4 separate regions of the Homo sapiens genome follow, and regions 2, 3 and 4 are each linked to region 1. Evidence: fine-mapped expression QTL. A gene starts in region 1. Each other region holds a variant in brackets. All regions are shown on one strand. Distances are from middle to middle. Region 1 holds the start of TMEM255B (transmembrane protein 255B). Region 2 overlaps GAS6 (growth arrest specific 6). Region 3 overlaps TMEM255B (transmembrane protein 255B). Region 4 overlaps TMEM255B (transmembrane protein 255B).

The links. PIP is the estimated chance that this variant, and not a neighbour inherited with it, causes the effect.
Region 2: its variant is fine-mapped to the expression of TMEM255B in whole blood (TOPMed, PIP above 0.99). The same link has a PIP of 0.9 or more in T cells.
Region 3: its variant is fine-mapped to the expression of TMEM255B in whole blood (INTERVAL, PIP above 0.99).
Region 4: its variant is fine-mapped to the expression of TMEM255B in whole blood (INTERVAL, PIP above 0.99).

The regions. Positions count from the first base shown.
Region 1 is chr13:113,756,117-113,761,250 of GRCh38, forward strand. It overlaps TMEM255B (transmembrane protein 255B), which reads left to right and starts at 3,110. Exons shown (of 9, transcript NM_182614.4): 1 at 3,110-3,199. The coding sequence starts at 3,154. RefSeq lists enhancers at 2,270-2,771, 3,328-3,829.
Region 2 is chr13:113,820,768-113,825,901 of GRCh38, forward strand. It overlaps GAS6 (growth arrest specific 6), which reads right to left. Exons shown (of 15, transcript NM_000820.4): 13 at 2,608-2,783; 14 at 1,191-1,419; 15 at 1-251. The coding sequence ends at 97. The region is part of intron 1 of GAS6-AS1 (GAS6 antisense RNA 1); the gene reads left to right. Among named protein-coding and RNA genes, the nearest start is that of GAS6-AS1, 7.7 kb to the left of the region's middle. RefSeq lists enhancers at 1-375, 925-1,473. The variant A/G (reference allele first, on the strand shown) is at 2,368.
Region 3 is chr13:113,799,741-113,804,874 of GRCh38, forward strand. It overlaps TMEM255B (transmembrane protein 255B), which reads left to right. Exons shown (of 9, transcript NM_182614.4): 6 at 1,087-1,172; 7 at 1,913-2,072. Among named protein-coding and RNA genes, the nearest start is that of GAS6-AS1, 13 kb to the right of the region's middle. RefSeq lists enhancers at 1,420-2,294, 4,000-4,558. The variant G/A (reference allele first, on the strand shown) is at 1,950.
Region 4 is chr13:113,810,456-113,815,589 of GRCh38, forward strand. TMEM255B (transmembrane protein 255B) reads left to right here. Exons shown (of 9, transcript NM_182614.4): 9 at 1,281-5,134. The coding sequence ends at 1,448. Among named protein-coding and RNA genes, the nearest start is that of GAS6-AS1, 2.6 kb to the right of the region's middle. RefSeq lists an enhancer at 5,039-5,108. The variant C/T (reference allele first, on the strand shown) is at 2,236.

The DNA.
Region 1 (5,134 bases):
CCAGAAAAGTATAGAGAATAATATAACATCCCTGTCCACACCATCTAGCCTTAATGGTATCTCAACATTCCCCCTTTTTTTACAAGTCTTTTAACTTTTTTAAAGAAAGAAGATTTCACAAATAGAGTTTAAGCCCCTAGACATAGTTCCAAAGCTGTTCAGCTTGTCCACCCAGACAGAGAATCACAGTTCTGGATGAAGCATGCACTCTCCCCCAGCATGTTCTTCTACTTTACTTACACAGTATCCATGCATCTACACACATGACTCACGGTGTCCATGTATCTGCACACACATGACTCATGGTGTCCATGTATCTGCACACACAAGGCGGTGTCCATGTATCTGCACACGAGACTCACGTCCGTGTATCTGCACACATGAGTCACGGTGTCCATGTATCTGCACACACGAGACGGTGTCCATGTATCTGCACACGAGACTCACGTCCGTGTATCTGCACACATGACTCAACGTGTCCGTGTATCTGCACACAGGACTCACGGTGTCCGTGTATCTGCACACAGGACTCACGGTGTCCGTGTATCTGCAAACATGACTCATGGTGTCCGTGTAATCACCTCCTACTGTTTCATCATATCCTATAACCAGTTTCTCAGCTTCCATTCTGCTATCCTACAACTACTCTCCAGTAATCCTATGTGTAGGACCCTCCAATAACCCCCACATCACTCGGAGCAAAGGCCAGAGGCCCTGCGGCTCACCCCTGATGTCCTCCACCTGGTCCCCACAAGCCTCTGGCACCCTGGTCTCCTTGCTGCTCCCCCTGGGCCTGGATGGCTCCACCCCAGGGCCTTTGCATGGAGGTTCCTTTTCCTCAGACCCTCTGCCCCAGATGTCTGGGTGAGCAACCACCTCCACGCCCTCAAGCTTGGTCTTCAACATCACCTGTCAACAAGCTCTCTTTTCACTACTTAAAAACCACAGCTCCCTCCCTCTCCCACACTATACTTTCTATTTTGTTTCTTTACCTCTCTTTCCTTTTTCTGTGGCCTGCATTACCTGGCTGTGTATGTATGTATGTGTGTATGTGTGTGTATGTATAAGTGTGTATGTGTGTGTATGTGCATGTGTGTGCATGTATGTGTGCATGTGTATGTGTGTGCATGTGTGTATGCATGCATGTGTGTATGTATATGTGCATATGTGCATGTATGCACGTATAAGTGTGTATGTATGCATGTGTGTATGTATGTGTATGTATGTGTGCGTGTATGTATGCACACATGTATGCATGTGTGTATGTGCATGTATGTATGCGTGCATGTATGTATGCACACATGCATGCATGTGTGTATGTATGCATGTGTATATATGCATGTGTGTGTATGTGTGTATGTGCATGCATGTGTGTATGTCTGCATGTGTGTATGTGTATATGTGTGTGTGTATTCCATAGCATGTTGCCCTCTGACATGCTGTGCATTTTTCTTGTTTATTGTATTATTATTCATGGCCTCACTTCCCCACCAGGATCCTTGTTTACGTTGCTCATTGATACATCCCAAGTACCTGGAACAGTGTCTGGTATATCGCGGATGTTTAGTAAGTCTTGAGAGGCTCACTGAGTGAACAGTGTTAATTTTCATGGTTTAAAACTTTATATAAATGGTACCATACTCGCTGCCGTACTTGCTGTCGTACTCGCTGCCGTACTGTGCACTTGCATTTTTGCTCCGCGTTCTGTTTTTGGCATTTATCCACATTGATCCATGTAGCTCTCATTTATTTTAACTGCCATGTGGTATTTCGCTGTATATGCCCATTTCTTTATCGCTTCTCCCCGTGTTGGATATTCAGGGTGTGTCCGGTGCTTTGGACACACAGTGTTGTGAGGAATATTCTGTACGCATCTTCTAGCACATGCATACTTCTTGTGGTAGTTTCTCTCTCACAGTGGATGGCCTATTAGAATGACTAGGGAATTCTTAGCTATTAGTTTGTTCCCAGAAGTTCTGGTTCAATTGATCTGGTCTGGGTTCAGTGCTGCAGAAATGTTTTTTCTTTTAAAGACATTCCTGGATGACTTTAACGACAGCCGGGGTTGAGAACCACGGCTCCTGGCTCGAAGGAGCAGATCTATGTTTGTGTTCTTGGGCATATCTAGAAAGAGATATGCTTTCTTTCTGGCTTGTCATCTACTTGCTTCAATTTTCCTAAAGGTTGCTTTCAAAGTGGTGGCACCATGCGTGATCCCAGCGGTGAATGCAGATTCCCACGTTTTCATTAACATTCTTTAAGTTGTTTGACCCTTGGGGTTTTCTGATAGGATGAGGGTGAAACGCATCCTCTTGTTCCCACAGCGTTCCCCTAATTCCGGGGGCTGAGTTTATTGATCGTTCAAGCATCTTCTTTTGTGACGGGACCGCTGATGTCCTTGACTCAAAGATGTTAAAAATACGTTTAGAAGGATCTTTATTTTTTCCTGCTGCTGTACGAGGCACCCTTTCTGGCCCCGTGTTTCCTTGCCCTTCTTTCCAGCAGCAGATTTTACTCAGAACAACTTCAGTGCTGTGGACACAAAGACGCAGGCCTTGGAGAGGCGGGTCAGCCCTGCCTCGGGGCTGCTGAGTGAGGTGCCAGATGCGTTTGTTCCTCATTTACTCATTTGCGTTTGTTCCTCATTTACTCGTTCCTCGCAGACTGGGTTGTAACACCATGTACCACCCTCTGAACCCAGAGATCAAGGGCTGGCTGGCCCTGTAGCCCCAAGGAGCTCCGTCACCGGCCAATGGGGAGGCGAACCCGTGGTGACCCACTCAGCGGCACCGCCAAGGGCTGAGCGTGGCGCCAGCGGCGGAAGGCCCGGGGTCACCGTCCCAGGCCGGGGCTCCGACCCCGAGTCCGCAGGGTCCTCTCCAGGCACCTTCCATCTGGGGTCTGGCTTCCACTCCCGGCCGCGGCGTCCTGATTTCCAGAAACCAGGCGGCCGCTGGAGGGGAGAAGGGGGAGCGGGCGCAGCGGGGGAGGGAGGAGAAGAAACGCCGGAGAAGGGAGAGTAGAGCGAGGAAGGACGCGAGGCGGGCGGAGCGCGGGGAGGTGCAGGGGGCGGGGAAGGGGCGGCGCCGCGAGGGCGGCTCCTGGCGGCGGGACTGTGGCTGTGGCCCCGGGAGAGCCGGGTGGGGCCTCGGGATGCAGCCGCCGGTGCCCGGGCCCCTGGGCCTGCTGGACCCCGCAGGTGAGCGCGGGGCTGGGGGCTCGTCTCGGCTCCTGCGGGGGAGCGTGGGGACCCCGGGGCTGGGACTACAGGTCCCCGGCCGGCCCGGGCGGAACCTGCGCGGAGACGCGGCACGGGGTCTGGTCCCTCCGCCTCCTTCGAGCTCTGTCTTTGGAACACTTTGCATTTCGCACTGGGGTCGGGCGTTCGTCCTACCGGTTCGTTCATTCATTCTCTCTCCCTGTCTCTCTCTCTGTCTCTGTCTCTGTCTCTCTCGCTCTTTCTGTCTCTGCCTCCTCAGTCTTTGCCTTTCTCTGACTCTGTGTCCGTTCCTCTTGGCCTCTCTCTCCCTGTTACGTTTTATTATGAGGAACAGGCGCCCCAAAGTGCGCTCCTTCCCCATCTCTTCCGTTTATTCCAACCTACACCATTTTCCGGGAAAACTTCGTTTGGAAGAGCGAGGTAGCCTTTTCCTGTTTGAACGTGCAGAGGCGCTCACAGAACTGGACAGTGTTGCTTGGTTTCGGCTCGCCCCTCTCTCGTGTTTCTCCCCGGTGTGTTCACGGAATCTCCAATTCTTCCACTTCCCAGACCAAGCCCGCTGCAGCCTCGGAGCCAGGCAAAGGCTGGGAAAACAGGAAACCTGTTGCGTGTTCACCAGTTCGCAAGCCGGGCTCGGGGGCTCTGCCGGGAAGTGGCCAGGACTGGAAGGATGCCGGGTGTCTTCCTGAGGGGGAGAGGGCTGGGCAGATTTCAGAACAAAAGAGAAACAGAGTTCCCTAGAAAGTGAAGCCCTGACGGCTGGAGGGAGGGATGGAGTGGTGTCTAGGGGGCTCTGCCGCTCCCTCAGAAATAATCCAACACAAACTTCTGGGGATTAACCTCACAACCCTTTTACTGCGGCATCGTTCGGAACCGGACGAATTACTGTTACTTAAAATAATCAAATAATTTGGCTTCTTTCTAAAAGAAACCACTATATGCCTTCCAATCTAAAGCAAAATGCTCTATGGTCAAATGTATTAATGTGGATTAGTCTATTGGTGTTTAATAATGATAACTATTATTATTATTTATTAACTAGTTTTATCATTATTAGAATGCCTTAATGTTTAAAAATAGCATCTGACTTAGATTTTCTTCTGACAAAGAACTTTAAACCTTAAAACAATACTTGGAGCTGGTCTTTTTAGTATATGAAACATTGGTGTATCTGGGTAGGATTATGGGTCTTTTTGTTTGGAGCTGGTCTTTTACTAAAATGTATAAAGCATTGGTGTGTCTGGGGTTGGATTATGGTCTTTCTGCTTTGGTGTGTCGGGGTGGATTATGGTCTTTCTGCTTTGGGGTATCTGGGGGTGGGTTATGGTCTTTCTGCTTTGGGGTATCTGGGGGTGGATTATGGTCTTTCTGCTTTGGGGTATCTGGGGGTGGATTATGGTCTTTCTGCTTTGGTGTGTCTGGGGGTGGATTATGGTCTTTCTGCTTTGGGGTATCGGGGGTGGGTTATGGTCTTTCTGCTTTGGGGTATCTGGGGGTGGATTATGGTCTTTCTGCTTTGGTGTGCCTGGGGGTGGATTATGGTCTTTCTGCTTTGGTGTGTCTGGGGGTGGGTTATGGTCTTTCTGCTTTGGTGTGTCTGGAGGTAGATTGTGGGTTTTTCTGCTTTGGGGTATCTGGGGGTGGACCATAGTCTTTCTGCTTTGGGGTACCTGGGGGTAGGATTATGGGTTTTTCTGCTTTGCCCTTCTTTGTTCACTACCCTGGGCATGTGTAAAATCAGGACGAAAGAGGAATTGACGGCTGAGTGATTACAGTTTTACCTGGGATTGTTACTTGGACACCATGACTGGTGTCCCCACATGATTAAATGGAACTCACTCTTCTTTTTGGGCGTTCCAGGTCCGGCTGGCAGGAAGGCCGGATCTTAGAACCCTTCCAAGCAGTGCCACCTCC
Region 2 (5,134 bases), 65 kb after region 1:
CCAGCTCTCAGCATGGCCCCACGTGGTGAGGAGCCCCCAGGCTCCTCCCGGCTGTCTCGGACAGAGACTGAGAAGCCTGCCGCGTCCCGTGGGGGCCTAGGCTGCGGCGGGCTCCACGGGGGGGCAGGAGTGGGCCGTGATGTCGCTGTGCTTGTACGCCGCCTCGTCCAGGTCCAGCAGCCTCCGGTTGACCTCCAGTGTCATGCAGCCGCGGTAGAACGCGGTGACTGGCGCTGAAGTCACCGGCACATCTGGGCCGCAGGGAGAGAACAACATATCTTAGCTCACCACGTGGCCGGCCCCGCCTGGCCCCCCCACCCCCGGCAGCGCTTGTGGCCAGCCCCGGGTTCCCTCCGAAAGGGCAGGGTTTCCCTTTCTTCTCTAACTTCTCGGTCCCCGTTCGTTTGGCCGCAGACCCGGCAGACAAGCAGGAGGCATCTGCCAGCCTGGGCTCTGCAGACGCCAGCCCTCCCTTCCCCGCTGGGAGCACAGACAGTCCCATCGGTTAAACGTGATCTTCTTCTGTGCCCAGTGAGTCATTCAGGCTGCAGGCCTCCTGGCTCGCTCTCATCCTCTTCAAAGCTCTGTTTATTAAAACTAAGTGGAGTCTGTGTCTGGCAGCCAAGAGAGAAATCCTGCCGTTTGCCGCAAGTGAAAACCTGCGGGCAGCCGAGGACTTGCCGGCTCCCACGTGCCTTTCCGCTGACCCTCCCAGCTCATGGCAAGGACATCCCCGGTCCCAGCCTCTGTGCTGTGTAGCCCATGGGACACGGCAGGACGCCCTGCTGGACATGGGAGGGGCTGGCGGTCACTCTGTTCGCTGCTAACAGCTGCGGTGACAGCCGCGGGTCCCAACTGCAGCCTGGCCCGAGGTCTGCCCAGCCCTCTCCCCCGGGGCTGGTCTGATGGGTGTGGACGAATGCTCCCTGAAGATGCAGGTTCGTGGGGCCTGACTCAGGCCAATGCCGGCCCCCGTACGTGTTTCTCAGTCTCAGCCAATGACCTGACCAGCACCGAGACACCATAATAGCCACTAACGACCCACCTGGACTTCTCCTTCCTCTTAAAACACAAGTCCTCTTCCGCATTCACTACCAGAAACCCCAGCCTGTCCAGGTTAGATCTGGGGTGACCAAGCTGGGCCTCCCTGGAGCTCTTCACCCGGGTTGAGCGGAGCAGGGAGCACCTACCTGGCAGGCCGCCAGCAAAGGTGAGCACGGGGCTCCGCAGGTGCCTCTCGAGCACGGCCAGCCTCTCCTGCAGCTGCGCGGCGCTCACCTCGCTCTGGCCCCTGGTGCCGTCCACCTCCAGGGTGGCCTCACCGTCCCTCAGCGAGACGGTGACCACGTGCTCTTGGCCGTCGCAGACCTTGATCTCCATTAGGGCCAAGGCCGTATGCTCCACGGCCAGGACCACCAGCTGCAGGAGACCGAGGTGTGGTCAGGGCCTGCCGGCCACCCCTACGTGAGCTGTTAGGTCCAAGCTGGTCCTCACAGCTGCTGGCCACCCCTACGCCGCACGCCTGTCTCCGTCCAGGGTTCCCTGCAGCCCTGGGTCTGGATGCTCGCTGACTGTGGATGACACCCCCACCCCACCTGGGGCTCAGCTTCTCTGCACGTAAAGCCAGGGGCCAGCCTGGGAGGCTGTGGGGGAACAAGTGTGGCCCCCAGGTTGGGTGTGAGAGGGTCAACCCCAGCCCCAGGCACCAGGCACACACAAGACCGAGGCTGCACTTGACCAGGAACTGGGGTGGCCCTGATGGGGACCCAGGACCCAGCCCTGCGGTGGCGGCCTCCCAGCCCGGTGGGCACTCACGCTGGCACCACAGCCCAGCAGCCCAGGGGTCGGCTGTTGCTACATAACAGCAGCTGTTTATTCCAGATGCTGAGATTGGGTCTGGCCCTGGTAACGAGCATTTGCATGAACCAAGCCTGTCTGTCGTATCCCAGCAAGCGGGAGGGCTCTGTGGCCCCGGGGTGGGCAGACTTGGAGAACGTGAGCCTCTCTGGTTTGACCCATGTCTCCCTCCTTAGCACACGAGCGAGAGAATAAAAGCTGTTTCTGTCACCTCTTGATTGTTCTGTGGGGAAAACAGCATGAGTCCCCCAGCCCAGGACAGCTGACTTATTGTGAGGACCGGGGGTGGGGGGACCTTGTCCAAGGGGCAGCTGCACTCAGCTCCACCCGGTGTCCCCCACGGAAAGACGCTGTTGGGGGACCGGCCAAGGTCACAGATCCGACTTTTCCAGGGAAATTGGAAAACTGAGTTTGTTGCTGAAATCATCTGACTTAAACACCAGAGACTAATTCAGATTGCTGTGAGCCACCATCTGCCCAACCGAACAGGGGAAAAGCTCCCACACTGTG[A/G]GCCGAGTGTGGCTCGCAGGCGCCGGCCCCCTCAGCTGTGTGGCGGTGACCTGGTGTCCAAACAACCCCCGCAGCCCGAAGCGTGGCCCACGCCGGGCTTGGCTCATCAGACCTCTGGTCAGAGGCTTTGGGGGTCCCTGGGGATCCCACCGCGGGCCCCCTTCGTCCCCTGCCAGGGAGTGCAGCCCACGTACCCGTGGGTCGAGCCGGTCAGGACGCCCTGGGTGGCGGAGGCCCTACCTGCTTCTTGAGTTTCTTCGTGGAGTGATAGTCTACCAGTGCCACAGAGAGAGGCACGGCACGGAGGTCGGGGGCCCAGAGCGCAAACAGCACGCCTGTGTCTGCGGCTGGGCGGATGTGAGCCACGACTTCTACTTCCCAGGTTGATTCAGTCCCGACGTCCAGAGGGGTCCGCACTGCAATGAAAGCGGTGCATTATAGGGTGGTATGCACGGTGGAGAGGCCACAGTGAGGTCGGAGCAGGGCCTCGAGAGATGCAGTCCCAGCCGGGGTGGGAAGCTGTGCAGACAGCCCCGGATCTGGGACGTGATGGAAAACTCAACAGACTGGTTCAGATCTTGGCCCGGAGCCCAGAGGCACCGGGGACCCCCAGGCTGTTTCTCCCTGGCCACACCAGTACCCCACTTCCAAATGCCCTGTAGGTGACCACCAGGCCACACAGGCCCGTCTGAGGGGCCACAGGCTGTGCACCATGGGACGCAGGCCTGTCCCTGCCTCCCTCCGATGTCCTCTTGTTTCAGGAGCGCCTGACAGCTCCTTCCTCAGAGCGTGCGTGGCCTCGTGCCTCGCATCTCACCTGCAGCTTTCAGGTAGCAGCACAGGGCCCAGTGGGGGCTGAGAGTTTAAGATAGCATGCGGACAGGAGCTGTCATGAGCACGGTGGTCTGGGGTCTGAGCTGTCAGGAGCACGCGCGGTCTGGGGTCTGAGCTGTCAGGAGCACCCGCGGTCTGAGTTCTGAGCTGTCAGGAGCACCGTGGTCTGGGGTCTGAGCTGTCGGGAGCACGCGTGGTCTGGGGTCTGAGCTGTCAGGAGCACCCGCGGTCTGGGGTCTGAGCTGTCGGGAGCACGCGCGGTCTGGGGTCTGAGCTGTCAGGAGCACCCGCGGTCTGGGGTCTGAGCTGTCGGGAGCACGCGCGGTCTGGGGTCTGAGCTGTCAGGAGCACCCGCGGTCTGGGGTCTGAGCTGTCGGGAGCACCTGCGGTCTGGGGTCTGAGCTGTCAGGAGCACGCGCGGTCTGGGGTCTGAGCTGTCAGGAGCACATGCGGTCTGGGGTCTGAGCTGTCGGGAACATGTGTGGTCTCCCAGGGAGAATGCCACGGCATATCCTCTCCACGCTGAGCCCTCCGTGGACTAAGAAGCCAGAAGAAAAAACTTCCGCCCTGTTTTCAGTGTTTCTATCTCACCCAGAATTCCAAAGTCCTGATAAAGAAGCTGTTTTAGGAAAAAGGACCCCAAATCACTGTGTGTACACATTTGTGACTGGGCGCCTCGCACTGCAGGCCAAGGTTGGGGTCAGAGTGAATTGTGCTGGTTTCCCTGTCTCTTTCCCACGGGGCTGTGTACGCCTGAAACCCACATCGCCTGTCCTGCCTGTCCCTAGCTGGTACCCGCCACATCAGTTCTCAACAACCATTTATGGCACCGAAACACACAAAATCAGAAAAAGTAACAAAAATATTGCAACAGAATCAAAAAGTAACAACAAAAAGTCTCCTGTTTGCCGGTCTTCCCATAACCTGTGAAGGGAGAGATGATGGTGTTCTTTAAAATGGAAGCTCCCAGTCGGGCGTGGTGGCTCACGCCTGTAATCCTAGCAATTTGGGAGGCTGAGGTGGGTGGATCACCTAAGGTCGGGAGTTCGAGACCAACCTGACCAACATGGAGAAACCCCATCTCTACTAAAAATGCAAAATTAGCTGGGTGTGGTGGTGCATGCCTGTAATCCCATCTACTCGGGAGGCTGAGGCAGGAGAATCGCTTGAACCTGGGAGGCGGAGGTTGTGGTATGAACCTGGGAGGTGGAGCCAAGATCGTGCCATTGTACTCCAGTGTGGGCAACAAAGGCGAAACTCCGTCTCAAAAAAAAAAAAAAAAAAAAAAAAGGAAGCTCCTGACAGGAGGCTAGGCACATGTTGGCCATCGGGGCTTCACAAGGGCACCGGCCTCTGCTCTCCCCGGGAAGGTTTCCCGGCTCCACGTGGCCCCTTGCATGGAGGCTGCACAGACCCGGAGATCTGCAAGCCTGAGCCCAGCAGAGTCGCTGCAGAGTGAGCCAGGCCAGTACTACCATTCCCAGCAAGTCTCCTCTGTCTTGTAAGAGACGTTACTGGTATAGTTTGAGATTCACTGGAAATGCATGGAGCTGTAACTGCTTCTGTCCGGATAGACCAAAAAGGGCCGGCAGACGCGGCCGGCAGTCACTGGAAATGGCCCCTGTGATGCCTGCATAAGGTTACCCCTGAGAAATGTGTATGATATTAAGTGGAAAAAGGATTTAAGCATTTCATATGACATGATTTCGTGTCAAACATTATGATGCTCTAGATTTGGAAGTCCAAAAATCAAGACTGAGGGAGAACGCGTGTGCACAGTCAGTCCAGCCAGTGGCAGATGGCGCTTTTCTCAGATGCCTTTCCTGACACGGTCACGCTTTTGACACCCGGGGGGAGACGGTGACACTGGATCTGGCTCAGGACGGGGCAGGACCCTCCCCTTTGCTCCGCGTGGATCCCCTTGAACCTGGGG
Region 3 (5,134 bases), 44 kb after region 1:
CATTTACAGTGTCCGAGAAACTTCTGGATTTCCCTGAGCCACCGACAGCGGCAGTGTGACCTCATTTCTCTTTCCAGGTGAGTGAGATGCGGGGAGTAATGACCCGCGGGCGGCCGCCGCCTTCGCCAGGACCGTCGGAGGGCACAGCTCTGTGACGGCGCTCTCTGTGTGTCTCGCACCTGCCCTGTGTGGATTCCTGGCTTTAACTAAACGCAGCCTCTCATCCTCAGCACGCGTGTCAGAGGAGGAGGAGCTGGAGGCCCTCTCAGTGGCCAGCACCTGCCAGCTTGTCTGGGACTCTCCAGCAGCTGCCGGGAGGCATCGTGTGTGTGTGTGTGTTTATGTGTGTGTGTGTGGGGGGGGGTAGGCAGGAGGCGTCCCGTGTGTGTTTAGGGGGGAGGTGTCCTGTGTGTGTATGTGTATGTGTGTGTGGAGGTGTCCTGTGTGTGTGTGTGGGGGGGGGTAGGCGGGAGGCATGCCATGTGTGTATGTGGGGGGGAGGCATCCTGTGTGTGTGTGTGTGGAGGTGTCCTGTGTGTGTGTGTCAGGGGAGGCGTCCTCTGTGTGTGTGTGTGTGTGTGTGTGTGTGTGTGTGTGTGTGTTGGGGGGTGTCCCCTGGCCAGGGCTTTCAAGGTTGTCACACAGAGGTGGCAGGTGTCTCTTCTGAGGCTGCCAGTGCTCAAGCCTGGGGGGAGAGCGCCCTGGGACGGGGCCTGTTCTGCCGCCCTCCGGGCTCTCAGGCTTCTGTGCACCCCACGCCGAAGGCCTCCTGGGCTCTGTCCTTCTGCCCACGCACCCTGATATTTCCCTCTGCTCCTGGGATCATGGAGAAGCAAGGCCTCTCCTCTGAGCCCCGATTATCCGGCCTCTGGGACCAGCCTGTGCCCCTGACCCCTCCTGCAGGAAGGGTCCTGGCCCCCGAGCCCCCAAGCCTCTGTGTCTGGAGTCGGGGGAAAGTCGGGGGAGGCAGCTGCTTGGCTGGGCCTCAGTGGCCGCTCCCAGCTCCCATGAGGCAGCCCTGCCCTTGGTGGGGTGGGTGAGGTGGTGGGCACCGGCATGTGACCTGACAAGGCCTCTCTGCCCCAGGTCACCTGTCACTCCCTGGACGGCAAGTGCCAGCTGAAGGTGAGAAGCAACACCTGTTACTGCTGTGACCTCTATGCCTGCGGGAGGTGAGGGGCACCGGGGACCCCCATATCTACACCTGCGGGAGGTGAGGGGCGCTGGGGACCCCCGTATCTACACCTGCGGGAGGTGAGGGGCGCTGGGGACCCCTATATCTACACCTGAGGGAGGTGAGGGGCGCTGGGAACCCCCGTATGTGCCTGCAGGGGTGAGGCCTCCATCCTTCTGCTCCTGACATCACCCCCCCCACACCCCTGCACCTACATCGTCTCCTTTACTCCTTAGATGTTTACATGAGGAAAGGACATTGAGTCCATTTCACAGATGAAAAGACAGAGGCTCTGAAATGTTGATCTGCCCAAGAGGACACAGCCCGTGTGTGTCGGGCGAGAGTTTAAACCTGGCCTGGCCTCTGAGGCCCCAGGCATGGCCCCCTCTTGGGACAGGGGCCCGTGACCCCGACGGCCTTCCCATCCTGGCGTGAAGACAGAGATGGCTCAGCCGGGGCCCAGACACCCGTCCTGCCAGGCCATCGAGGCGGAGGGGCGGGCCCGCCAGGCCCAGTTGCCGCTCTTTGCCACTGTGGGCCCCAGGTGGGGAGCCTCACAGGCCAATCCCATCAGACATAGGTTTGATCTCCCAGAGCAGTGCAGGGATGGGCGTTGACTGGGCTCCAGCCCTGATTTCCTCCCCCAGCCCTGCAGGGCTCAGGTCCAGAGGACACAAGTTTAACTTGCGGGTGGTCACTTGCCTCGTGCGGTGACGCCATGGTGCCCTCTCTGTGCAGCGCAGAGCCCTCGCCCGCCTACTATGAGTTCATCGGC[G/A]TCAGCGGCTGCCAGGACGTGCTGCACCTGTACCGCCTGCTCTGGGCCTCTGCAGTTCTGAACGTCCTGGGCCTGTTCCTGGGCATCATCACCGCCGCCGTCCTGGGGGCCTTCAAGGACATGGTGAGGCCCCTTGGTGGGACCCCCGCTGCTCACTGGGAGCCGGGGCTCCGGGTCCATTTCCCCGGGGTGGGCTGGGGGGCCTCCAGCCCTCACTTTACAGATGGGGCACTGAAGCCCATGCGTCTGTCAGCAGGGTGTCAGGGTGACAGCTGGCGTGCACCGACTCACCTCGGGGCCGTCCTGTCCCAAGCCTGTCACAAGAATCACCTGATTTAATCCTTGCCTCCCCGCTGAGGTGGGCACAGCCGTCCCCAAGAAACAATGTTCAGCTCCAAGAGGGAGGCCCAGCCCTTGTGCACTAAGCTCCCATCATTAGCAACTGCCTGGGGCTTCAGATGGGCAGGTCTGGGCTGGGGCTGAGCTGATGCCTTAGCAAACCCCAGAGGCGAGACCCATACAGCCAGGATTGGCCTGGGCAGGAGGAGGGAGGGAAGGGGCCCCTCGCGGGAGGTGGGCTGGACCCATCCTGGAAAGGCCGGCCCTCGCCCGGGAAACCACAGGGAAATCACTGGCCCGGGCCGGATGTCCTCTCTCTTCTCCCTCCTCTGCCCTCTCCTGGCGCCTGTTTCAAACCAGATGTTCTCGTGGTGTGCGGCCAGCAAACCCCGCCCCCTGAACTTGCAGAGAAGCTGTAAGGGATGGGCAGCCAGGAGTGAGGGAGCCCCAACCCCCAGAGTATCCAAACGGCAGCCCAGGGACGAGGGGCGCCCCCTCTTGCACCCACATGAGGAGGCCTGGCAGCACCAGGCAGACGCACATCATGCAGGCCAGACCCGGCCCAGCGAGGCAGCGAAAACACTCCTGAGCGGCTTCTCCATGCCCTATTCGTCCCAGAGGCTGTCCATGACTAAAAATTAGCTCAGCTGGGAACCCTCCTGCCATCTGCTTCTCAGCTCCTCCTTTTCTCAACACTTTTGTGCTTCCAGACAAAACTGGTGAAGCTGAGAGTGACCCTGGCATCCCGAGGTCCAGCCCTCTGGCTCCCCACCCAGTGGCCCCCCAAGCCCCACCCTGGGCCCCCAGACGCCCGCACACCAACACAAGACAGGCACCTCCCAGGGGTCCTTGCTCTGTGGTGACAGCCGGCCGGCCCCTGCGGTGGGAGCGGGAGTCTGGGGTCGGGAAGGGTCTCTGCCGGGATCTCGCGGGCTCCGGGCGCCTTTGGCGTCTCCTCGGTGCAAGCTTCTCTGCCTCGGCAGCTCAGTGTCTCCTCTCAGCGGCCGTCCCAGGAGGAACTGCAGCCGGATTGTAGACAGGACACAGAAACGCTTGTCTGGTGCAGGCGCCATGCTCGCCACACAGGCCCGGGGTGTCCAGGGTTTTCCGGAAGGGGCTCGTGTGTTCATTAAAGCCCGTGATAAAATGCTGGAGTGCAGGATCAGGAACAGGTGATACCTCCAGGGCCAGCCCGCAATGCAGAGCCACACCGGCTCCAGGAAGTCTTCCTCGAACCCAAAGCTCAGGGCTGCAGAGCAAGGAGAGGACTTGCTAACCTTCACACCCACCAAGCAGGCCCTCTTGTGAGTTTAACTGATTTTGCCATTTAAACATTTTGTTAAGGAATGAAGATGCTTCCTTCATTCCTTAACATTCCAAGCTGGACGTGCCCTTCGTAGACGAGGGCAAATTACTTGTGATGGGTGCGTGGGAGGCACTTAACGTGCCGGCAAGGGCGGGCGGCTGAGCCAGCCTCTCAGGGGCCTCCTCCGCGTGTGACTCCGTGGCCCCCGTGTTCTCTGCTTTCTGTGCACTCGCCCCGGCCCCATCCTCAGGCCACCGCCAGCTCAGAGGCCTCCCCACCCCTCTACCTGTCAGAACTGCAAATCTCCTGCCCCTCCCTCACGGAGCACGACCCTCCATGCCCATCCAACCTCCCAGGCCCACCTCGGCTGCCCCCCTGCTCTCTGCAGGGTCTGAGGCAGAAGCACGGCCTCCTGCACATGTGGACCAAGGACCAGCTGCCCAGAAGGCCCTGCCCCTTCCCACCTTCCAGTGCCCGCTGGGCAGGGGGCTCCCTCCCAGCCCCAGGGGTGCGGGCAGCACCGTTGTCTGAGGACACCTCAGGCCTGGGGTCATCACCCTGTCCCGGGGTTTTCACCGTGTCCCCGGGTTGTCACCGTGTCCCCGGGTCGTCACCGTGGCCAGCCCCTCGCAGCGGCTCTGGCCTGGCTTCCCCGCCTTTGCCATCTTCCCCTGGCTTCCTCCAGGGTGCTGCTGAACCTGGGGGTGGGGGCTGGGGAAGGTGGAGGGGCACCTGTGTGAAGGTGGGGAGGGAGGCGAAGCCCGGGTGCCCTCGGCCCAGTCCCCGCGTTTCTGGCCCGGGGAAGCCCTGAAGCTTGTGTGAGCCATGGGCCCCTCCCTCTGTAGGGGATGAGGCCGGCCGGGGCCTGAGTTGGAGCCAGCACCTTCTTTGGAGAATTTTAACTGCCTGAGTGAGTCAGTGAAAGTGTGGACGGGAGCTCAGGAGACTTTGGTTTTGTTCGCATTCCCCAGAAACCCCACGCTGGTTGGGGCACAGGCTTGGGGAAGCGAGAGCCATCAGCCCGGTGCTGAGAGGGCCCTCCCCACCTGCACCCTTCTGTGCCGAAAAAGCAGACTTTGGGGCCCGGAGAGAAGGAAACCAGTGCTTTTTTCTCCCCCCCCAAAAAATCAAAAAAGTAAAAGAGAGCCCGAGCCGAGCGGTCACCCAGTGTGACTAGCAGGTGGCGGGGCCCTGGGACCAAGATGTAGAGAACCTCAGTGTAAAGCTACGCCGGGCCGGGGTTAGCTCCAGCCTGGGTATAAACGCACGCCGGGCCGGGGTTAGCTCCAGCCTGGGTATAAACGCACGCCGGGCCGGGGTTAGCTCCAGCCTGGGTATAAACGCACGCCGGGCCGGGGTTAGCTCCAGCCTGGGTATAAACGCACGCCGGGCCGGCGTTAGCTCCAGCCTGGGTATAAACGCACGCCGGGCCGGGGTTAGTTCCAGCCTGAGAGTCGGGGGTCGAGGGTGCTGGGCTTTCTAGGAAGGCTGGACAGCCCTTCCCTCCACTAGGGGGTACACGCCGACCACCCGTCTCCTC
Region 4 (5,134 bases), 54 kb after region 1:
GGGTCTATGTGTGTTAGTCAGGGCTCTCTAGGGAAGCAGAGCCTATGGGAGAATACAGGTACCTACATATGAAGAGAGAGATCAATCCATCGATTCTGAATGACTGGCTGATGACTGTGGGCTTCAGGTGCACAACCACAGGGAGGGGGCAGGCTGGAGACCAGGGAGGGTGACGCTGCCCCGGGAGTGCCTAGGCCACTGGGGCAGAGTCCACTTCTCCTGGGGACCACAGCCTCTTTCCTTAACGCCTTCAGTGGAGAGGAGGGGCCGTCCGTGTCCAGGGGCTGAGGCACTGTACGCAAGGGTGTCAATCACACCTGAAGATGCCTCCACGGCAACACCCAGATGCGTGTGTGAGCCGCTGAGTCAGCCACGGTGACACTGAACCAGCCACACGCTGCTGGACGTGTGGACGTGTGGGGTTCATACGTGGGGCCTTTCCCAAATATGAAGAGTTGGGTGAGCCCAGGGGCCCCAGGCCTGGTGGACCCTAACTGTTGGTTTTGGAGTCAGGTCAGAGGCTCGCTGGCTGTGAGGAAGTGGGATGTGGTCTGAGGACACCCTTCCTGGGGCGTCCACCCCCTGCCCCATGCAGCTGTGGAGGCCAAGGTTGTGCCAGTGAGGCCCCGGCCACCCTCTCCTGTTCTGCCCCGGGCTGGGGCTGCTCCTTCTGGTGGCCCTGGGTCTGTGGGGTGGGGGCCCGTGAGAGTGGTCCTGGGTCTGTGGGGTGGGGGCCAGTGAGAGAGGTCCTGGATCTGTGGGGGGGGCCGGTGAGAGAGGTCCTGGGTCTGTGGGGTGGGGGCCCGTGACAGTGGTCCTGGGTCTGTGGGGGCCCGTGAGAGTGGGCCTGGGCCTGTGGGGGGGCCGGTGAGAGTGGTCCTGGGTCTGTGGGGTGGGGGCCGGTGAGAGAGGTCCTGGGTCTGCGGTGGGGGAGGGGGACGTAAGAGTGGCCCTGGGTCTCCGGGGGAGGGGAGGGGCGTGAGAGTGGCCCTGGGTCTGTGGGAGCCCGTGTGAATAGCCCTGGGTCTGTGGGGGGCCCGTGTGAATAGCCCTGGGTCTGCGGGGGGCCCTGTGTGAGTGGCCCTAGGTCTGAGGGGGCCTGTGTGAATAGCCCTGGGTCTGCGGGGGGCCCATGTGAATGGCCCTGAGTCTGCGGGTGGCCCTGGGTTGGCGGGGTGGGTGGGGAGCGTGTGAGTGGCCCTGGTATATGTCAGGCTTCCCTGTGGTCCGGCACGGGGTGGTCTCACCTGCTAACCCAGGGCCCTCTCTGTTTATTGCAGCCCTGCAGCCGCTTCCCAGTTGCGCCCTCCTCTGCCCTGGCTTCGTCTGAGGACCTGCAGCCCCCTTCTCCAAGCAGCTCTGGCTCTGGGCTTCCCGGCCAGGCTCCACCGTGCTACGCACCCACCTACTTTCCCCCGGGGGAGAAGCCACCCCCCTACGCACCCTGATAGAGGCGTGGAGTAAAAGATAACTTGTTTGTTTTTTTTTTTAAAAAAAAGGCAGCCTCTAGAAATCCCGCTTCTGTGGCCAACCTCCTAGAGAACCCGGGAGAATGTTCCAGAAGTCTGTCCCCTCCTTTCCTCCCTGGGCACACTGGTGAGGGAGGCTGGAACCAGGCAGGGAGTGGGGCCCTCCAGACCCAGGCTGGTGACACCTTGGCTTGGGCTCTGCTCACATCAAATGGCGCTGAAAGTTCCCACCCGGCCTCCTCCTCTGAGAGCAATTGTTCTGGTGTTTTCACATCCCTTAATTAATTAGCTATTATTATGATTTTGCAAAGACAGTGCAGCCCCGGCCTCCCTGCCTGTGTGTTCTTGTTTGTGGACATGTGTTGTGCGTTACACGTTCGTGTGTGCATCTGTGTCCTGGAGAAGCGCAGGGCAGAAGCCACCCGCCCCTCGTGCTGTGCTCCTGACGTATGCCAGGAAGGGAAGGACGCTTCGGCTCCAACGCCCAGCGCTGTGTCTAACCGCCTGTGAGTTGTTAGAATCCAGGGGCCCGGTTGTCTTTCCCAGCCCCGGATGCAAATCTGCCTGGGCCACTGGCACGAGGGTCTTCCCCTGAGCTGTCTCCCAGCTACGGCGCCTGGGCTTCCGCTGTCCTTCCGCGGCTTCTCCCTCACCGCACCTTGTCTCAGGACCCCTGGCCGCTGGGATGGTGGGGGACGGTGTTTCGGGGTCCTTTGGCTCAGGGTCTGGGGCCGCAGCACTCCCTGTGGAAACCAGCTTAGCTCCC[C/T]GCGGGCCCAGCATGCACCTGCCGGGCACACCTGGGGAGACGGGTGAGCACGCCTGGGAAGCAGCAGGTCCCGGGTGGGTCACAGGCCCCGGGTGGGTCACAGGACAGGTCTCAGGTGGGTCACAGGTCCTGAGTGGGTCACAGGTCCCGGGTGGGTCACAGGCATCCCGGGTGGGTCACAGGTCCCGAGTGGGTCACAGGCCCCGGGTGAGTCACAGGCCCCGGGTGAGTCACGGGTCCCGGGTGGGTCACGGGTCCCGGGTGGGTCACGGGCCCCGGGTGGGTCACGGGTCCCGGGTGGGTCACGGGTCCCGAGTGGGTCACGGGTCCCGGGTGGGTCACAGGCGCCCCAGTGACAGGAGTTCAGGATGCGCCACCCCAAAGTAGCCGAAGTCTCTTGAAAAGTGTTGGATGTGGGGAGAGGCTTTCTCTGAACTCCTGAAGTCAGATCCTCAGGGAACCAGGGACTCCCAGGGCGGGAGGGCGGGCGAGAGGTGATCCCATTGCTCCCCAGACGTGCCACAAGACACCAAGTCGCCGTCTCTGCTCTGTGGGCCGCTCACGGTTCCCCAGTCACTCCCTCTCCCCTCGGAAGCTGGCGCCTCCAGGCCTCACCGCTCTCAGGGCCTCACGTCCCTCCCTGCAAAGCCCCCCGTGCCTACGATAAACAAGTACCGCTCTTCTCCCGTGTGGGTCTGAGGTCTCCAGCTTACTTCACGGAACAGTGCCCACCTGGGAGGTGGAGCGGGGACTTTCTCCCCTGCCCAGTCCTGGATCTGGGAGAAAAAAGATAAGGTGGAGGGGAGCCACACTCGTGCAGACACAGCCTCCTGCCCCCTCTGCTGCCCGGGAGCCTCCCTCTGTCCGATGGAGGGTCTCACACAGCCTCTGCCCCCTCCGCTGCCCGGGAGCCTCCCTCTGCCCGACGGAGGGTCTCATCCTGTGTCCAGCGCTCCTGGGCAGAAGGCCCACAGCGCACATCCACACATGAACGGTGGCTGGCTGGGCCCAGGGGCCCTAACGGGCCTCTGAAAGGCCTGCAGCCAGCTCTGGTCTGTGAACCCGCCACTGCTTGTCATTTTTATCTTATAAAATCCAGCCTCACAAGCTTGCTGTCCAGGAGAATGTGGTCTTGGCCTCTCAGGGCTGACTGGCCTTGAACCAGTCCGGGAGGTCGGGCACGAGCCGGAGGTGCGGCGTCCTGTCTGGAAATCACCGCCCAGTTCCTCCAGGGCTGTGGGTGCCTGGCTCCGAGTAAGAAGCTGAACAAGCAGCAGAGACCAAGAGGTTTCTGGAGCGCCGGGAGATGCACTCACGAGCGCCTGTGGGGGAAGAAAAGTGTGCCACGGATTTCCCGAGTCCCCAGGGCTCTCACTTTACCTCAGGGAAGGCTCTATGGGCGCCGATGGTGCCGTGGTCTTGTGTGGGCGGTTCCTGGGCACCCTGGAGCTCGGGCTGTGCCCCCGAAGCTGCCTGGTGCAGGCACCAGCACCTCTTGGTGTCCTAGGGGTGCGAACAGCAGAGAAGCTGAACTGCAGGTCTGGGCAGGGAGTCTATGCCCCCTGGAGCTCTGGCCAGCAAAGTCACAGGAATAACCCTCCTTCCCCTCATGTCAGCCCTCGGTCGCAGGGTGCGGTGTGGGGGCATCAGAGTGCTTCCCCGAGGCTGCACTCACCAGCTTCCCCCAAACACAACATCGATCTTTCCCGACTTTTAATCTTGTCTAGAGTCAAAAGCTGTTCAAAAATATTCAACTCCAAGGTCAACAGTTTTGTTCTTGCCACAAAAATGTCCTTATCCTTTATCCCAGCCACAAAGAATGTGAACAATTTGACTCAAGGTTCGTGGTGGCTGGAGGGTCCCCCAGGTCCCAGGGCAGCTCCCACCTGGCGCAGGGCTCCGGCCAATGCCTGGCCTGCAGTGTGGGCGGCGGCTGCTCTCGAGGTGCACCTGTCTCATGTGGACGGATCCTGTCTGGGGCCACCAAGCTCTGCCAGCCTGAGTCACGGTCTGATGAACCCCCTCTCTGGGCTCCGCTGGGGCCTTCTGATCCCAGCCTCCTCTGCAGGGATGGGCTCCCAATCCCGCCCTCACTTGGTTCCCATGCACAGCCGAGGTCAGTGAGACCCTGGAGGCCGCGGGAGATGGGGTGGAGGGGATGGTGGGGCAGGGGGTGCTGGGGGGTTTGGGGGTGCTGTGGCCCCGGGGCAGGGGGTGCTGGGGGGTTTGGGGTGCTGTGGCCCCACCTGCACTCCCTGCCTCACTGGGACAGCACAGGAGACAGGCTTCTCCTGCAGCTCAGAGGTGGGGGCCTAGTGTAGCTGCAGGTTGTGACTGAGGAGGGCAGGGTCAGAGCATTGCCCTGGGCAGGGGTCCGTTGAGACTGGCCCCACCTTATTAGCTTGGGACCTTGGGTTACAGGGAGTCTCCTCCTGCCTCAGTTTCTACATTTCACACAGCAGCACTGCTCACAAGAGCTCCCAAGCAGAGGCAACTACTGAGTGGGGGAGGGACACAGTCCGTCCACATGGGGCCAACGGCCACAAAGAGAGGAAGGGACATGGGTGACGGTCCGTCCACGTGGGGTCACCGGCCACGGAGAGAGGAAGGGACATGGGTGACGGTCCGTCCACGTGGGGTCACCGGCCACGGAGAGAGGAAGGGACATGGGTGACGGTCCGTCCACATGGGGTCACCGGCCACGGAGAGAGGAAGGGACATGGGTGATATGGTTTTGCTGTGTCCCCACCCAAATCTCAACTTGAATTGTATTTCCCAGAATTCCTGCGCGTTGTGGGAGGGACCCAGCGGGAGGTAATTGAATCATGGTGGCTGGTCTTTCCCGTGCTATTCTCGTGATAGTGAGTAAGTCTCACGAGATCTGACTGGTTGATCAGGA